Homo sapiens: one gene and its partners. The protein of the gene in region 4 purifies or fractionates together with the protein of the main gene of each other region. This does not show direct contact. Each region holds a gene or a part of one and is shown on either strand. Other genes may lie near its edges.

What was found.
Region 1: the proteins of MC1R (region 4) and MRAP2 purify together in Homo sapiens (co-immunoprecipitation; one study listed by IntAct). This does not show direct contact.
Region 2: the proteins of MC1R (region 4) and OGFOD1 fractionate together in Homo sapiens (co-fractionation; one large-scale study listed by BioGRID). This does not show direct contact.
Region 3: the proteins of MC1R (region 4) and MGRN1 purify together in Homo sapiens (affinity purification with western blotting; 3 studies listed by BioGRID). This does not show direct contact.

The regions. Positions count from the first base shown.
Region 1 is NC_000006.12:84,032,447-84,036,571, reverse strand, and holds the start of MRAP2 (melanocortin-2 receptor accessory protein 2), read right to left. Parts: upstream 2,801-4,125; 5' UTR 2,689-2,800; intron 2,454-2,688; exon of another isoform or gene 2,340-2,453; intron 1-2,339. UniProt on the Homo sapiens protein: Modulator of melanocortin receptor 4 (MC4R), a receptor involved in energy homeostasis. Plays a central role in the control of energy homeostasis and body weight regulation by increasing ligand-sensitivity of MC4R and MC4R-mediated generation of cAMP.
Region 2 is NC_000016.10:56,458,054-56,461,553, reverse strand, and holds part of OGFOD1 (prolyl 3-hydroxylase OGFOD1), read right to left. Parts: intron 3,042-3,500; exon of another isoform or gene 3,016-3,041; coding exon of another isoform or gene 3,007-3,015; coding exon 2,960-3,006; intron 1-2,959.
Region 3 is NC_000016.10:4,652,326-4,655,825, reverse strand, and holds part of MGRN1 (E3 ubiquitin-protein ligase MGRN1), read right to left. Parts: intron 3,149-3,500; coding exon 3,002-3,148; intron 1-3,001. UniProt on the Homo sapiens protein: E3 ubiquitin-protein ligase. Mediates monoubiquitination at multiple sites of TSG101 in the presence of UBE2D1, but not of UBE2G1, nor UBE2H. Plays a role in the regulation of endosome-to-lysosome trafficking.
Region 4 is NC_000016.10:89,916,931-89,921,985, reverse strand, and holds MC1R (melanocyte-stimulating hormone receptor), read right to left. Parts: upstream 3,031-5,055; 5' UTR 2,728-3,030; coding exon 1,774-2,727; 3' UTR 1,014-1,773; downstream 1-1,013. Other genes in the region: guanine nucleotide-binding protein subunit gamma 4-like, read right to left, coding at 3,031-3,135, 3,939-4,110. UniProt on the Homo sapiens protein: Receptor for MSH (alpha, beta and gamma) and ACTH. The activity of this receptor is mediated by G proteins which activate adenylate cyclase.

The sequences.
Region 1 (4,125 bases), on a different chromosome or scaffold from region 4:
ACACTCACCGTGAAGGTCTGCAGCTTCACTCCTGAAGCCAGCGAGACCACAAACCCACCAGAAGGAAGAAACTCCAAACACGTCCGAACATCAGAAGGAGCAAACTCAGAACACACCATCTTTAAGAACTGTTAACACTCACCGCAAGGGTCCGTGGCTTCATTCTTGAAGTCAGTGAGACCAAGAACCCACCAATTTCAGATACACCATCACTAGCTTTGGGATGAAGGAAGTAAATCTATTCAACAAGGCCTCCTTGCTCAACCCTCATATTATTTTTCATTTTGTTTATTAAAACATTTCTTCATATTCCTTTGCATGATGAACCCTCATACTCTTGAAGTAACCAGTGGGTTCAAGAGTTATGGAGAGGTTCTCATATATCTACCTTGATATTTCATTTAGGAAAAAAAGCCAAAATGAGAAAAATTTAAAAAAAAAAAAAGACTAGACAGAAAATGACACAATGAGGCATTATCTGGTAATCTTCCAAATATCATAGCTTGGTATAATAATAGTTCCTTAAATATATTACACAAACATCATAAGAATATTGTTCTTCCAATATTTTTTGTACTCCAAGTAATGAAAACATTTCCCTTGAAAGCTAAAAAGGACAGATGTGATATTCTCTTTATACAATTTGAACTAATTTAATATGTTTGATAAAAGTTATCTATGAACTGTGACTATCAAAAAAGGTCACAGATAAATAATTCAGAGATGAATTCTGATTGGCAAAATACCTCAGCATCTGGGGGCCAACAGAAATGGGGAGGAGGAAGCGAACAGCTTTCCAGAATATGTTGATGACATAATCTGCAAGGTAAAAGAAGATGACCCCCACTGTGACCAGAATGGGGCTAGCTCAGAAGGCTGAAAGGGGGCAGCTAGCGATGGGTATGAACACTCACGCAGAGGCAGCAGGATCAGCAACACAGAACAGGACACATGCATCACCAGCGCGCGCTTCACAAAACAGTACTTTCCCTTGCTCCTGCAATGCACTCTGATATCTTATCTTTCTTTCTCTTGGCTTTCATGTTTTAAAAACTGCTATTTGCAACTCACTAAACTGATCATTAGCCTAATGAGTCACAGCCCACATTTGAAGACAATGGATACAGCATACCCTGATCTATATCCCAGTAGATTGCTAGAAAAGGGAAGGGAGTTGGTTTGGCGTAAGTATTTGTAAATGCTTCCCTAGGTAGTTTTGAGCTATCTTAAAGAATTTGTTCTAGAATGTTGCCAGGATTCAATGTTTCCCTCTTTTAAAAAGTCTCCTGGGTCCATTCTCATCTCTCATACCTGCACAAAGATGACTGTAACCGCTTTCACTACTCTAGGACGTCTGCCATTTGGGTTTTGAACAATCCAGTCCAGTTTCGGGCTTCGAGACCCTCTTTAAAGGGTTTAGGCTGGCCTCACTTTGAAAAGAAAGATACAGACTGGAAGCAACTCTTCCTTTTCCTATCACCTGTTAATATTATCTATTCTTCCATAAACACTGGATGATCTTCCTCATAAGAACGAAACTCCTTGTGGGTACCCCAGCTCACAGTGGCCTCTGGCTTTCCTGACCTTATCCTTGCAGGCCCTCGTCACTCTCCTGCACCTGTTCTTGTCTGTGTACCCCATGCAATGTACCTAAAGGAAACTAGACTCACAGTCCTAGCTTCCAGACCCCTACTCCCCACTATTACTTAACTGGGGCAGTCACCTTGGAAAACGTATTTAATATCGCAATCTAATTTTCTCTACCTGCAAACTGAAAATACTACTGTTTACTTTTGGGGTTTTCGTAAGAATTAATTTATGCATAAGAGTTCCCTTCTCTCGTCTCCCTGGACACATTCCCTCAAGCTTCCTTTGCCTTCAAAACACCAGAGTGTTTCACTGTTGTCAAACTAAATGCAGAGTAGTGGCTGAGATTCTGTGCCATCTAACATGCTGTGGAAACCACAACGCCTCCAAACAGGTTTCTGCAGAGACTACTCTTTGCCTTCCTCAATTAATTACACAGAAAGGATGGGAAAGGCACGGGGCACGGGGCGCGGGGCGGGCGGGGGGAGCGGGGGCGGGTTGCGGGGTGGGGCGGCGGGGAAAGTGTAAAACCCCTATTTCCCTCTAATCAGTAACACGACCTGCGAGCAGGCTCCCCAGTCCAAACAAAATGAATGAGCAACTGTCAAGCCAGGCATCATCTGAGAACCCTGCCCAGTGCATGGAGGCGCGCCCGGGGCCAGGAGCCAGCACATTTCCCCAGCCCAGGGGGGCTCTCTCAGTTGCAGGGCACCAAGGCGGCAGGAGGGCCGCAGCAAGGAAAGTTTTCTCACCAGCGGGAAAGGGTGTGCCTCGGCCGCTGGGGCCCAGCGGAGGGGAGGAAGCCCACCCAAGCCCCGAGCGCCGCCGCTTCCAGGCTTTTCGGACGCCCAGCGGCGTCCACACGCACATCAGCGGGCTGCCGGGAAGGTTTTAAACTTGGTGCTCTCCACGGGGTCCACACTCTTCCCGTGGGCGTCCTCACACCCCAATTCTCCTCCTCCCACCCCATTCTCTAGCCCCTCTAAACTAAAGACTGCCCCCAAACCCAAGCAAGCCCTGCCTTGACCAAAGCTGCACGCGCCCCGCACCCAGCGCCCGGGCTTTGCTCCGCCCTGGGCGCCCTGTCCCGCCCGTGGTTACCGGCTGGCTAGCCCCGGCCCGCGGGCTCGGCCCTGGTTCCGGCTCCTGGCTCCTCCGAGGTGCGCGAGCGCCGCCGCCGCCGCCGCCTCCCACCGCCCAGGGCCGGGCGAGTAGCTCCTAGATCCGAGGTGCGGCGGAGACGCGCGCTCCCGACCCGCAGCGGAGGCGGCGCGGGGCGCCGGAGCAGGGCTGCAGCGCGGGAGCCGCCTCCCCAGCGCGAGAGCCGCCTCCCCAGCGCGAGGCCGCCTTGGCCAAGAGGAGGTGAGCTTTGCAGATCCCTTTCCTGCTCACTTTGCCCCTCCGAGTCCGGGTCAGAGCCTGAGTCAGAGAATTCTTTGCCATCCCGGGCTCTGCAGTGGGTCCCTCGGGTCAACTTTGGGTAACAGGAGGAGCTCATTAGCTGAGCAAGAGGGAGTGGGGTATCATGAATCAAGGCTTATGAAAAATCGGCAGCATTGAGTTCAAGTTCAGTAAGGCCAGAGCCCCCCCATAATGTGCTGCTTAAATTACTACCTCGATTTTAGTTTCTCTTCCTGCCCACTGGTCCAGGTGTCAAAGGGCAGTCAGACGTTCAAACGGGGTCCCAAAGGGCTAGCACTGGGCCGGGAGTAGTTTCAGCATAGCAGGGCTGGCTCATCTCTTCCTCCCTTGAGTCCTTATTGCATGCCAGGCATTGATCTGGGAATACAGGTGCTTGGTGCTTGCATTCTACTAAAGAGACAGGCATAAACATAACAAATAACTAAAATACATAGTATGTGAGATAGTGATGAAGTGCGGTGGACAAAAAAGAAGGGAGGAAATGGGATAATGTTTGGAGGTAGGGGGTGCATTTTTAAATGGGATGGTCAAAGATGGCTTCACAGTGGAGTAAAGATCTAAAGGAGATGAGACAGAAAGAAGTCACGCTGGTATCTGGAGAGAAAGCACTTGCTGTGTGGCAGGCACTGAGATGTTCTTTACTGCACTAGTCATTTCTTTTACTACTCTCCATATGCCATATTAGACAGGTATTGCCACCATTTCCATTTTACTGATGAGAAACTGTAACTTAGGAAGGTTAAAGGAACTGCCCAAGGTCATATGCTAGTCAATAGAGGAGCTTGCCTTCAAGGTCAGGAAGCCTGGTGCCCCAGAACCATAGTTTAACCACCATTATACAGCAGCAGGGGAAATGCAGCACCCATGCAGGCTGGTGGCAGTGTGATGAACTCAAGCTGGTGGTGCCAAAAGAGGATTCCTGGAAATGACATCTCATCACTGATTTTTTTTTAAAAGCTCAGTTTCATTACCACTTGTAAAATGAAATATTTTGAACACCATTTTTCTTCTTCTTCTTTTTTTTAATTTTAAGTTCTGGGATACATGTGCAGAATGTACAGATTTGTTACATAGGTATACATGTGCCAGCGTGGTTTGCTGCATTTATCAACTTGT
Region 2 (3,500 bases), about 33 Mb from region 4:
AACTGGAGGTTCACACTACTGCCTCCTTGGGTTTGATAATTTACTAGAATAGCTCACGGAACTCAGAAGAAGTTTGTTTACTAGATTACCAGTTTATTATAAAAGGACAGAACTGAGAAACAGCCAGACGGAAGGGATGTATAGGGTGAGGTATGGGGAAGGGGTGTGGAGCTTCCACACCACGTCCTCCCCAGGTACACCACCCTCCCAGCACTTCCATGGGAGTTCAGCAATCCTGAACTCCTTTGGTTAGGGTTTTTGATGGAGGCTTCATTATGAAGGAATCATTGATTAAGTGATTGGCTATTAGTGATTAACTCAACCTCCAGCCTCTCTTCCCTTGCAGGAGGTCAGAGAGGTCTGTGCCAGGAATAGAGACCAAGACCAAATATACATTTATTATAAATCACAAGCACCAATACTGGTACCGCCATTTAATGAACACTTGGGTGGCACTGTTTTAGAAGATTAAAACAACTTTAAATGGCAATAATGATGAGTGTTGAATTAAATGCATAATAATGAGTGAAATCCTTCATAGAAGTTCTGATGCTAACAGGATACCAATAGAAGATGGTGAACGTTTCCATTTACCAGCTAAACTGGCTCTCCATGTAGAAATCTCTTAACACAATTTATAACTCACTCAGCCAATCAACTTTGAAATTATGAATTATTACTAACCTTGAGGAATTAAAACATTTTAAAAAGATTTACATTAGTTCAAGTTACGCTTACAAAGATACTTAATATTTTTTTGGATCATCCTACTCCAAATGCACATTACTGAAATTCCCATAAAATAGAACTGTCCTGTTTATAACTAAGTATCAAATCTCCAGGTTGATCTCTAAGATTTCATTACCAAATACCTTTTTATATTATACACTATCAAAACCAAAAAATTCCATTATCAGCTGCGAACAAGCTTAAAGAACATTCCATAAAATAATTGTGCTCAGTCAGTCCACTCAGAGGTGCCATGTAACTTTTAAAGGCAGAGTTGGAAATTATGTAAAATGGGTCAGGATAGCAAACTGCTGAACCAGGCTTCAGATAATGTGAGAGATAAATATTTCTTCAAAGTCTTGATACTGTAAGCAACTAATAGTCTTAAATCCTTTACTGGTAACATTAGCTTTCACAAATTCCAGAAAAAGCTCTTCTATTCATTCTATGAAAGTGTCACAAGGACAGGCTTATTTTGTCATTGTTAGCATTTGTTAATTGTATTCATGAAGGAACTCACAGAATCCAAGTGGGAAATAAAAAGATCAGCTCTCTGTAACGATTACGGAGTTGCAGCTTGCTCACCATCTGGCTGTAAGCCTTTAGTGTGGAATGTAACTCAGTCCCACATGAAATGCTTAGCAGAGTGGTGTTGTGAACTAAGGGGATAATGCCTTAATTCATGATAATCTTTCTTTAGGGGGAAAAAAGTCTAAGTAAATATGAAACATAATGCATTACAATTAACACACAAGCAATACTTCAGGATTTAGAAGAAATTGTGCAAGCTGCCTATAATACATGGAAGTACTGCAGAGAAAAAATATAATGAGAATAAATAATTTATACCATATAGGTGAAAAACAGCTATTACAAAGCAACATCTATTCATTATAGAAACTAGGAAAAAAATCCCATGTAAGTAAAAAACTATTAAAAAAAAATCTGTATTCCTACTAGCAGGAGTTAAATACTCTATTTTTCCAAATCTTTTACTTTATACACACAGACATCCAAATGTAGGTGTGTGTATCTCTTTTTAAAATAAGATCACGTGATGTGAATCCATTGGTCAGAAAAAACAACAAAGCATCAAATTGTGTGTATTATTTTTTTCTCTTGACAAAAATGTGTTAAGTATCATTATTTCATATATCACTAAGGAAAAAATGCTGTCAATTAAAGTAGGACACAAAAGTGATTGTGTGAGACACTAGATCCCAGAGGTGTTAAAATGTTAAAAGTTTCTTAGAATTGAGAACATAGATAACTACCACATTCATGTGTCAAAACTCATGTATATCATATTTAATGGTTGTATAGTTTCCACTTTATGTTTTGTACTATTATGTTTAAATCTCCATGGGCGATCAAATTTGTATATAATTTTTCAATATTATAAACAATATTACAATAAGTAATCTTGTATGGAATCTTTGAGCATATCCTTATTTTCTCAGGATAACTTCTTTTTTTTTTTTTTGAGATGGAGTCTCGCTGTTGTCGCCCAGGCTGGAGTGCAACGGGCTCGATCTCGGCTCACCCCAACCTCCACCTCCCTGGTTCAAGCGATTCTCCTGCCTCAGCCTCCTGAGTAGCTGGGATTACAGGCATGTGCCACCGCGCCCAGCTAATTTTGTATTTTTAGTAGAGACAGGGTTTCTCCATGTTGGTCAGGCTGGTCTTGAACTCCTGACCTCAGGTGATCCACCCGCCTCGGCCTCCCAAAGTGCTGGGATTACAGGCGTGAGCCACCACGCCCAGCCCCCAGGATAAATTCTTATAAGTGAAACTGTTCTACAAAAAGATATGCATACTTTTAAGGGTTCTGATACATCTTTCAAAACCATCTTTGAAGAAAGACTACAGCAGTGTATAAAGTTATCTATCTATATCTGTCAACACTAGGGTTTTTATTTTTAATATTTACCAACCTAACATGTGAAAAATGGTATCTCCAGTGTTAACTTCTGTTTCCTTGATTACTAACAAGATTGAGCATTTTATCACTGAGAACTTGGGCCTTGGAATCAGACAGACTTAGGTTTGTATGCTAGCTCCCTTAATTTTAAGCTATGCAAACTCAATTTCTCGGTCTCTTTCCTCCTCTACAAAGTGGGTTAACAATGTCAACAAGAATTATATGACATACACAATGTTGTAACATTTAAAGCACTTACTACTCTGCCTGGCACATATTAGCACCCAACAAATATGATTACTTGTTTACCTTAAAGTGGAGATGTGAGGCTCTCTTCTCTTCTTCAAATCATCAGACTTGATCATGAAAATAGAGAAAAAAAAGGGATTTCCTTCACATAAGAGACACACAAAGGAGAGCAGTTTAGTGAGTGTTCTGGTCCTAGCATTGTCATTAAGAGCCCAGACTCTGAAGCCAGGCTGCTTAGGTTTAACACAGGGCCCCTCCATTGGATGGGTCTGTGACTTGACAAGTTATTACCCTCTGTGCTTTATTCATTAAACAAATACTTAAGTCGTTATTATAGTCTAGTTTCTATGCCCATTGAGGGAGATAGACAACAGACACAAAAAGCAGATTAGTATAAAGATGGTGAGAAGTGCATAAAGGAAAAAAAGAAACCCAGGGAAAGAATGGGGAGTGCTAAGCCTGGGGAGTGGTTTGCAATTATAAACAGGTTGGCCAAGGTAGACTTCAGGGAGGTGATACAAAGACTTGAAGGAGGCTGGGAAGTGTGGCAAGGCAATATCAAGGCACAAAGCATTCAAGGTCCTGAGCATGAAGCGCGCCT
Region 3 (3,500 bases), about 85 Mb from region 4:
GGAGGCAGGGAGGGTGGCTTGCCCTGCAGCTCAAATGGATGGAGCACTGGCAGGCTGGATGGTGTCCGGGTGCCTGGGCACAGCCTCCAGGTCCTGGAGCCTCCAGGTCCTTTTCTGTGATCCCTGCTGGGAGGGGAAGCTGGCCTTGCACCGCGTCCTGAGAGAGGGGGACAGTGGCACTGGAGCTGTTCCTGCTCTGTGATGCCTGCTGGGAGGGGAAGCAGGCCTCGTACCAGGTCCTGAGAGAGGGGGACAGTGGCACTGGAGCTGTTCCTGCTCTGTGATCCCCGCTGGGAGGGGAAGCAGGCCTCGTACCAGGTCCTGACAGAGGGGGACAGTGGCACTGGAGCTGTTCCTGCTCTGTGATTCCTGCTGGGAGGGGAAGCTGGCCTTGTGCCAGGTCCTGAGAGGGGGGGACTGTGGCATTTCTCTCATCACTAGCCCGCAGGGGTCTAGGAGAGGGTGACACCAGCCAGGGCTGGCAGGGCACCCTCTCTGCTCTCTCTAGCCTTTCTGGTAGCAGCGGGACCCTCTCTTCAAGTGCACTTGAGATGGTCACCCAGCCCCTGACAGCTGGAGCACTGGGGGGCAGCGGATAGACAACTTACACTGGCCTGTGTCCTCAGCCCACACCCTCTCTGTGGCAGCCCCTGGACACCTCGCCACAACCCAGCTCCTCCACCATGTCGGCCAGGCCCGAGGAGGGCACCAGGCCCCGTGGGTGTCAAACACTCAACCCCAAGCAGTGGGGTGCAAGGAGGGGACAGAGGGGCCTGCCCTGGTCACTCCAAATGCTCCTACGCCCAAGAATTCGACGCCTGTCATAGCACACAGGCATGCATTACTAGTGTCATTAAAGAAATATAATCAAGTGCCGGGGCAAGGTAGAGCCTCAAAGAACAAAGTCTAGAAAAAGGAACCTGTTCCTCCCCAAAGTGCTGCTCCACAGGAGGAGCCCTGGCTGCCGGGGAGCCCAAGGCCAGAGCCCAAGGGCGGCCTCACCTGGTGGCAGGTCCCTAAGAACCTCCCCACATAAGTCGTCTCCACCAGCCCCTCAACTCGAGCACTCAGGCTCCTTTCAAGAGCACCTGTCACGCGAGGGGCTGTGCACAGGACACATGGTCCCCTCCTCACACCACCCACCCGAACTTCCAGCTGAGGACACAGAGGCACAAGCAGTCATGTGCCCCCAAGCCACTCAGCGGGGACAGCATTCAAAGCCTAGGCTCTCAACCACACCCTATCCCCAGATGCAAAGCTGACCACTGAGCGGTGTGCTCCAGTGCAGGAAGGCAGGGGGCACGCTCTTGCCTGTCTCTAAAGCCACTTGGGGCACATGTGCCCTTGTAGCCTGGAGGCAGTCCTGCCAGCTCCTGCTGAAGTTGCAGTTTTCAAACTTTCAGGGCCAGAAGGACCCTTATCTCAAATAAAACCTCTGAAAGTACAAATATCTAATTATGACACAATAAAAAATAAATATTTGGTCCCAGCCCCAGTTCCTGACACAGAGTCCTCTAAAACCCTTGTCATTTCCTCAGCAACAGGGGTGCTAGGAGCCTCTTTTGTTCTAATATTTGTTCCTTGACCTTTGCTCCCAACACAGAACTCCAAACCCTTGGAATTTCCCGGGTGGTAGGAGTGTCTTATGTGCCAGTGAGGTGACTCTTGGCTCCTGGAGGTGGCTGGCTGCCAGAAAGACCAAGCCATGATTAGAGACTTGGAAGTGTCGTCTAAGAGCTCCCGAGGAAAAACAAACAAAAACCTGGGCCAGGTGGGCCGGGCATGGGGGCTCACGGCTGTAATCTCAGCACTTTGGGAGGCCGAGGCAGGTGGATCACCTGAGGTCGAGCGATTGAGACCAGCCTGACCAACATGATGAAACCCCGTCTCTACTAAAAATACAAAATTAGCCAGGCATGGTAGCATATGCCTGTAATCCCAGCTACTCGGGAGGCTGAGGCAGGAGAAGCACTTGAACCTAGGAGGCGGAGGTTGCAGTGAGCCAAGATCACACCATTGCACTCCAGCCTGGGCAACAAGAGCGAAACTCTGTCTCAAAAACAAACAAAAACCACTTTGGGAGGCTGAGATGGACAGATCATGAGGTCAAGAGATTGAGACCATCCTGGCCAACATGGCGAAACCCCCATCTCTACTAAAAATACAAAAATTAGCCAAGCGTGGTGGCACGTGCCTGTAGTCCCAGCTACTCAGGAGGCTGAGGCAGGAGAATTGCTTCAACTCGGGAGGCGGAGGTTGCAGTGAGCCAAGATTGTGCCACTGCACGCCAGCCTGGGCAGCAGAGTGAGGCTTCGTCTCAAAACAAAACAAAACAAAAACAAAACAAAAACCTGGAACTGAATTTCAGCCCAGCCCCATCCTCCAGGGAGGGGACAGGGGCTGGAGATGGAGTTAATCATCAATCCTGCCTACGTGATGAAGCCTCCAGAAAAGGCCCTGAAATGGGGTTTTCAGGAGAGCTTCTGGTTTGCTGAATACGAGGAAGGTGGTGCGCCCCACCCCTTCCCCCACACCTCACCCTGTGAACCTCTTCATCTGAATCCTTTACAATAAACCAACAAACACCAGCCAAGTGTTTCCCTGGGTTCTGTGAGCCACACTAGCAACTCATCAAGCCTGAGGAGGGGACTGTGGGAGCCTGATTTATGGCTGGTTGCTGAGAAGTTCAGGTGACAGCGGGGGCTTATGAGTGGCATCTGAAGTGGGGCAGTCTTGTGGGACTGGGCCCTCAAAGTGCAGGGGTTGCATGACCTCCAGGCAGCGTTGGAACTGAAACCAGTCAAAGGACCCCAGCTGGTTCCCGCAGAAAAGTGGGGAGTCCCTGGGGTGGGAGAAACCCCTCACATCGTGGTAAAGTCCTGGGAGTATGGTCAAAGAGCACGGTTTGGTTTTCTCCCTCTGGTTAGTAAGGTGGACAGAAGCCTCCCCCAGGAGTCTGGGGCCCCCAGCCAGGCCGGTGCCAGCCGCCCGCGGGACTCACACTGCCCTGCCGTTCAGGAACTCCTCCGATGCCTGGCAGTAGATGGTGATGGCCACGCGGGCATCGGCGTCGAAGGTGAACTCCAGGCTGTAGAGCACCCGGGGCTTGTCGCCGTCCTCGGTGGGGCTGTCGGCATCGTCTTTGTACCTACCCCAGGCGGTGGAGAGAAAGGCAGCGGGTCAGCGGCCCCATCTGCGGAGGCTGCCTCCTCCCCTGCCAGGCTGAGGGGCCGTGGAGGTGGCTATGTGGACACAGCCCGCTTCTCCAGTAGACATAGGGGCTGTTTCCTATTTGTACATGAAAGCCCAGTGGTCCAGGGCTTGCCTCTCCTTCTTCCTGCCCACAGAAGACGGGGTACGTGCTTTTGGTTCAGAGACAGCCCCAGATGCCTCAAGTCTAGTCGGTTTAAGCAGTTTCTGAACCTGCTGAAATCTGGTGCTGGGTCATTCCTGTCTGTGGGGGGGCCGTCCTGTGCATGGCAGGAAGTCTGCAGCACCCC
Region 4 (5,055 bases):
GGGAAGAAGTTTTGCAGCCTCAGGGCAGCCAGCTCCTGCTCCATCCTCAGAGGGGTCTGGTGCCGGGCTTAAGGCTGACTCACCGTCCGGTCTCCCAGCAGAGGCGGGCCCTGCCAGGAAGCAGCTCCCAGTTCTGAGGCCGGCAGTCAGGGGTGGGGCTGGCCAGGGGGCTGCTGACTGAGCCTGCGTAGGAGTCGGCTGATGGCCCTGCAGCCTCCATTGAGCCTGTCCCAGGAAGGGGGCTGACTGAGTGCTCAGTCTCTGCAGAGGAAATGGAGGTGGTCTCTTCAGCGAGACGCCCAGGTTTCAGCAGAGGGATGGCCCAGGGGCGCCACTGCTCCCCAGCACCAGGCAGCATAGTTCATCCCCAGGTACTCACTCCCAGGGACTTCTCCGCCGGCTGGGCCTCTGCCTCACTGCCATCTTCAGAAGCCTCACATCAAGCATTTCCCAGGACTGGCTGAACACAGACCCTCCACCCCCGACCCCTTCCCCACCTGCCTACTCCCAGAATGGCAGTGCTGGGCAGACAGCAGACCCAGCCCCCAGCCCACCTGCACTGAGCCCCCTTCCAGGCATCTCAGAGTGGACAGGGATGGTCCCATTCACGGCTCATCATGGCTGGAGGGACTCAGGGCCAGGGCCAGCAAAGGGATGTGTCCCGGCTGAGGTCACATGTGGTCACAGGGAAGGCTGGGAACCCGCCTCTTCTGCAGCTAGGACAGCGTCAAGAGTGGAGGGGACTGGGGCCCTGCTGCACCTGCTCGTCCTTCCTCTAGGCTGGGGTTTGTCAGCACGGAGAGAAAACCGAGAAGCAGGGTCAGCGCAAGCCTGGTTGGGACCTCCACACTCCCCAGGCATTTGGGGCCTCTGGGGCTGTGGCTTCCTCACCTGGGGAGGCAGCCACGTTTTCCGGGACTCCTTTCTTCCCTCTCGACTCTCACCCCTGCCCACCTTCCCCTCCCCCATCCCTCCACCCGCAAACTTCAAGCACTTTCTGGAAGGGGCTAAGGTGGGTGATGCTGAGTCACATTTATTACCAGACTTTCCTGGCCCCATGCTCACAGGCACTGGTCACTGAGTCAGGCATTTGCCAGGGCTGTCTGCTTGGGCGACTGCTGCAGGAAAGCAGGCTGAGGCCCCAGTGCCCAGTCTGAGCCTTAGAACCGGCCCTCAGGAGGGCTCAGCCCCATACCACTAGGGGGGCTCCTGCAAACCTGGTCCCTTGGCCTGAGGCAGGGATTTCACCTCCTTTTGCAGGAGCCGCTGCAAGGCTGTGGATGAAGCTTTCTGGTCACAAAGCCCCTTCTCCTGGGGCTGCTGTGGGAGTAGCTCTTGGCACACACTTCCACCCAGAGACTTCACATCCCAGCTGACGAGGGCACGGTCCTGAGAGCTGGCAGCAAAGATGGGGTGGGGTGGATGCTGCTCAGTCATTGGAGCAGACGGAGTGTCCCAGGAGTGGGCGGAAAATGTCTCTTTAGGAGCCTGAGGTTGGCCCCTGGTGCCCGGAGCCTGAGGCCCCACAACCTCCCCATGTCCTCCTCCGTTCCCCACGACTGCTGGTGAGAAGTCCTGCCTGGAGTTTTGCAGGGACCCCTCCCTGGACCCAGAAGGGTCCGCGCTTCAACACTTTCAGAGATCATTTAGTCCATCCTCTTTGACAAACGGGGACCAGGGAGGTAAGGAACTGCCCAGGGTCACACAGGAACCAGACCACACAATATCACCACCTCCCTCTGCCCAGCACACTTAAAGCCGCGTGCACCGCGCTCACCAGGAGCATGTCAGCACCTCCTTGAGCGTCCTGCGGAGCTCCTGGCTGTGGAAGGCGTAGATGAGGGGGTCGATGATGGCATTGCAGATGATGAGGGCGAGAAAGAGGTTGAAGTTCTTGAAGATGCAGCCGCACGTGGGGTGCTCGGGGCAGAGGACGATGAGTGTGAGATGCAGGAAGAAGGGGCCCCAGCAGAGGAAGAAAATGCCCAGCAGGATGGTGAGGGTGACAGCGCCTTTAAGGCCAAAGCCCTGGTGGACCGGGCGCTGCCTCTTGTGGAGCCGGGCGATGCCCTGGGCGTGCTGGCAGGCCCGGGCCAGCATGTGGACGTACAGCACGGCCATGAGCACCAGCATAGCCAGGAAGAAGACCACGAGGCACAGCAGGACGGCCACGTGGTCGTAGTAGGCGATGAAGAGCGTGCTGAAGACGACACTGGCCACCCAGATGGCCGCAACGGCTCGCCGCGCCCGCGGCAGGGTCACGATGCTGTGGTAGCGCAGTGCGTAGAAGATGGAGATGTAGCGGTCCACGGCGATGGCGCCCAGGAAGCAGAGGCTGGACAGCATGGAGCTGCAGGTGATCACGTCAATGACATTGTCCAGCTGCTGCAGCACCGCAGCCCGGGCCACCAGTGCACCGGCCTCCAGCAGGAGGATGACGGCCGTCTCCAGCACGTTGCTCCCGCTCACCAGCAGGTCCGACAAGGCCAGGCAGCAGATGAAGCAGTACATGGGTGAGTGCAGGTTCCGGTTCTTGGCGATGGTGGCCACCACCAGCGCGTTCTCCACCAAGCTCACCAGCCCCAGGCTGAGGAAGAGCCCGTCAGAGATGGACACCTCCAGGCACCGGGCTCCTGTCTGGTTGGCAGCCAGCCCCAGCTGGGGGATGGCTGTGGGGGTGGAGTTGAGGGAGCCCAGAAGTCTTCTCTGGGATCCCTGCACAGCCATAGTCCTGTCCAGGAAGCAGGAAGGAGTCGTTGGAGGCCTCCAGGTCCCCACAGTTCTTCCCCTCCAGGTGTCCTGCTTAGTTCATGGTGCTGCCAGGGGGCCTTGGGTGTCCCCCATGCCTGCCTCCTTCCATCTGGGCACCCCCAGATCTGCCCTCACACCCTCTCCCTGGCTGGACAGGTCAGCCCAGGCATGGCCCAGCCAGTCCAGACACCTCCTGGCATCTACCGCCTGGGCTCAGGGATTCTCACAACCAAGCCTGGTCCTCAGCTCCCTCCCTGCCTCTTCCCTGGTGGCTGCTGCTCAGGTCCCCAGGACATTTCGACACCTCTGGACCGTCCTGGCCTCTGTCTCCTGCCTTCCTGGGCCAGGGCTGCGCTGAGGTCCTGGGAAGAATGGAGCTTTTCTCTGCGTTTTAAAAAGTCGTTCTCAGAGCCCCTCCCACTGAGGGCGGCCACATGCCGGGGGCGTGAGCACCCACCATGGCCCGGCCTGCCACCAGGCGGCGTGCAGGACCCAGGGGGTCCCTCACACCGCGGATCTCCTTTACGTTAAAAAACACCACAGTCTGTCCTGGTCACCAGGGCCCCCACCTGGCCGCCCCTCTAGGAGTCCGGAGCTTCCCCGGGACCTGCCCTCTCCAGAGGCCCCACCCTTCACCCCTCCCCTCGTCAGCAGCTCAGGGAGGACAGGGGTCCCCTCTGCTCTCAGCCAAAGCACGCATGGAGCAGCAACTCAGCTGTCAACGTTCACGGCAGATTTGGGGGCTGGACCAGGGAGAACTTTCCAATAATTAAAGTTCTGGAAACTGAGTGAGCCCTGCAGGAGTTTGCACATCGCGCGGGGTGAGGGGGCTTCCGGCCAGGGCAGAGCGTGAAAGCGTCCAATGCTAGTGAGCCCTGGAGAGGTTGGTGTTTTCAGGCATCTTGTAGAGCCTGAGGCCACTCTGGCGCCTGCCCCCAAGGGCCCAGCCTCGCCCAGCCAGAGTGGCGACCCCCTCAGCTGCAGCCCTGGGGCTGTGGGGGTGTCGCTTCCTGGGAGCGGACCGGCTGGGGGCACCCTAGTGAGGTCTTCAGGGACCCTCCAGTCATCTCGTCGCTCATCCTCACAGGGGCACCCGGGACGCTGCTCCCGCCCTCCCCGGGCGGCGCGCCATTTCCGCTGCGGAAGGCACCACAGGCCCTGCACCAACAGCCACATCAAAGGCAGACCTCTCGCCTCCAGCCGTCGCACGTGGTGCTCCGCAGGCCGTTCACAGCAGTCGGGCGTGGCCCCGAAGCCCAGCAGGGACGGTGGAGAGGGGCCCTGGCACCCACTGCAGGCATCTTCCTGGGTTCACTCCAGGGCGTTCCCAGCACTTCCTTGCTGAAGACTGCGTCTGTGCTGAAGGGTGGAAGCGGGAGGGGGATGGAATTACTCGTCCCATTTACAGCTGCAGGAAAGGAGGCAACGGTGCAGGCACCGCATCAGGGTTTTCAGTTTTGTGTCTGCGATGTTCGAGTTAAAATCCATCCTGTCTCTCGCCCAACTGCCAAACTCTGACCATGAAATGCTCACACCACTCACAAGCCACCTCCATGTGTGTGAGGACATTAATATTTTTCATATTTACTGGTACAGTAAATACTTGTTACAACCGCATTTTACAATTTATAAATCTTTAGTTTTGCTTTAAAATTTTTTATTATTGTCAGCCATGGTGGCTCAGGGCTGTAATCCCAGCACTTTGGGAGCCCAAGGCGGGTGGATCACCTGAGGTCAGGAGTTCGAGACCAGCCTGGCCGACATGGAGAAACCCCGTCTCTACTAAAAATACCAAAATCAGCCAGGTGTGGTGGTGGGTGCCTGTAATCCCAGCTGAGTCAGGATAATAGCTTGAACATGAGAGGCGGAGGTTGCCGTGAGCCGAGATTGCACCATTGCACTCCAGCCTGGGCAACAAGAGCAAAACTCTGTCTCAAAAAAAAAAAAAATTATTATTGCCGGGCACAGTGGCTCACCCCTATAATCTCAGCACTTTGGGAGGCTGAGGCAGGCGGATCATGAGGTCAGGAGTTCAAGACCAGCTTGGGTAATATGGTGAAACTCCATCTCTACTAAAAATACAAAAATCAGCCAGGCGTGGTGGCGCACGCCTATAATCCCAGCTACTTGGGAGGCTGAGGCAGAATTGCTTGAACCCAGGAGGCGGAGGTTGCAGTGAGCCGAGATCACACCACTGCACTCCAGCCTGGGAAACAGAGATACAGTCTCAAAAAAAAAAAAATATATATATATATATATATACATATAATTTTTATGTATTTATTTATTTTGAGACAGTTTCAC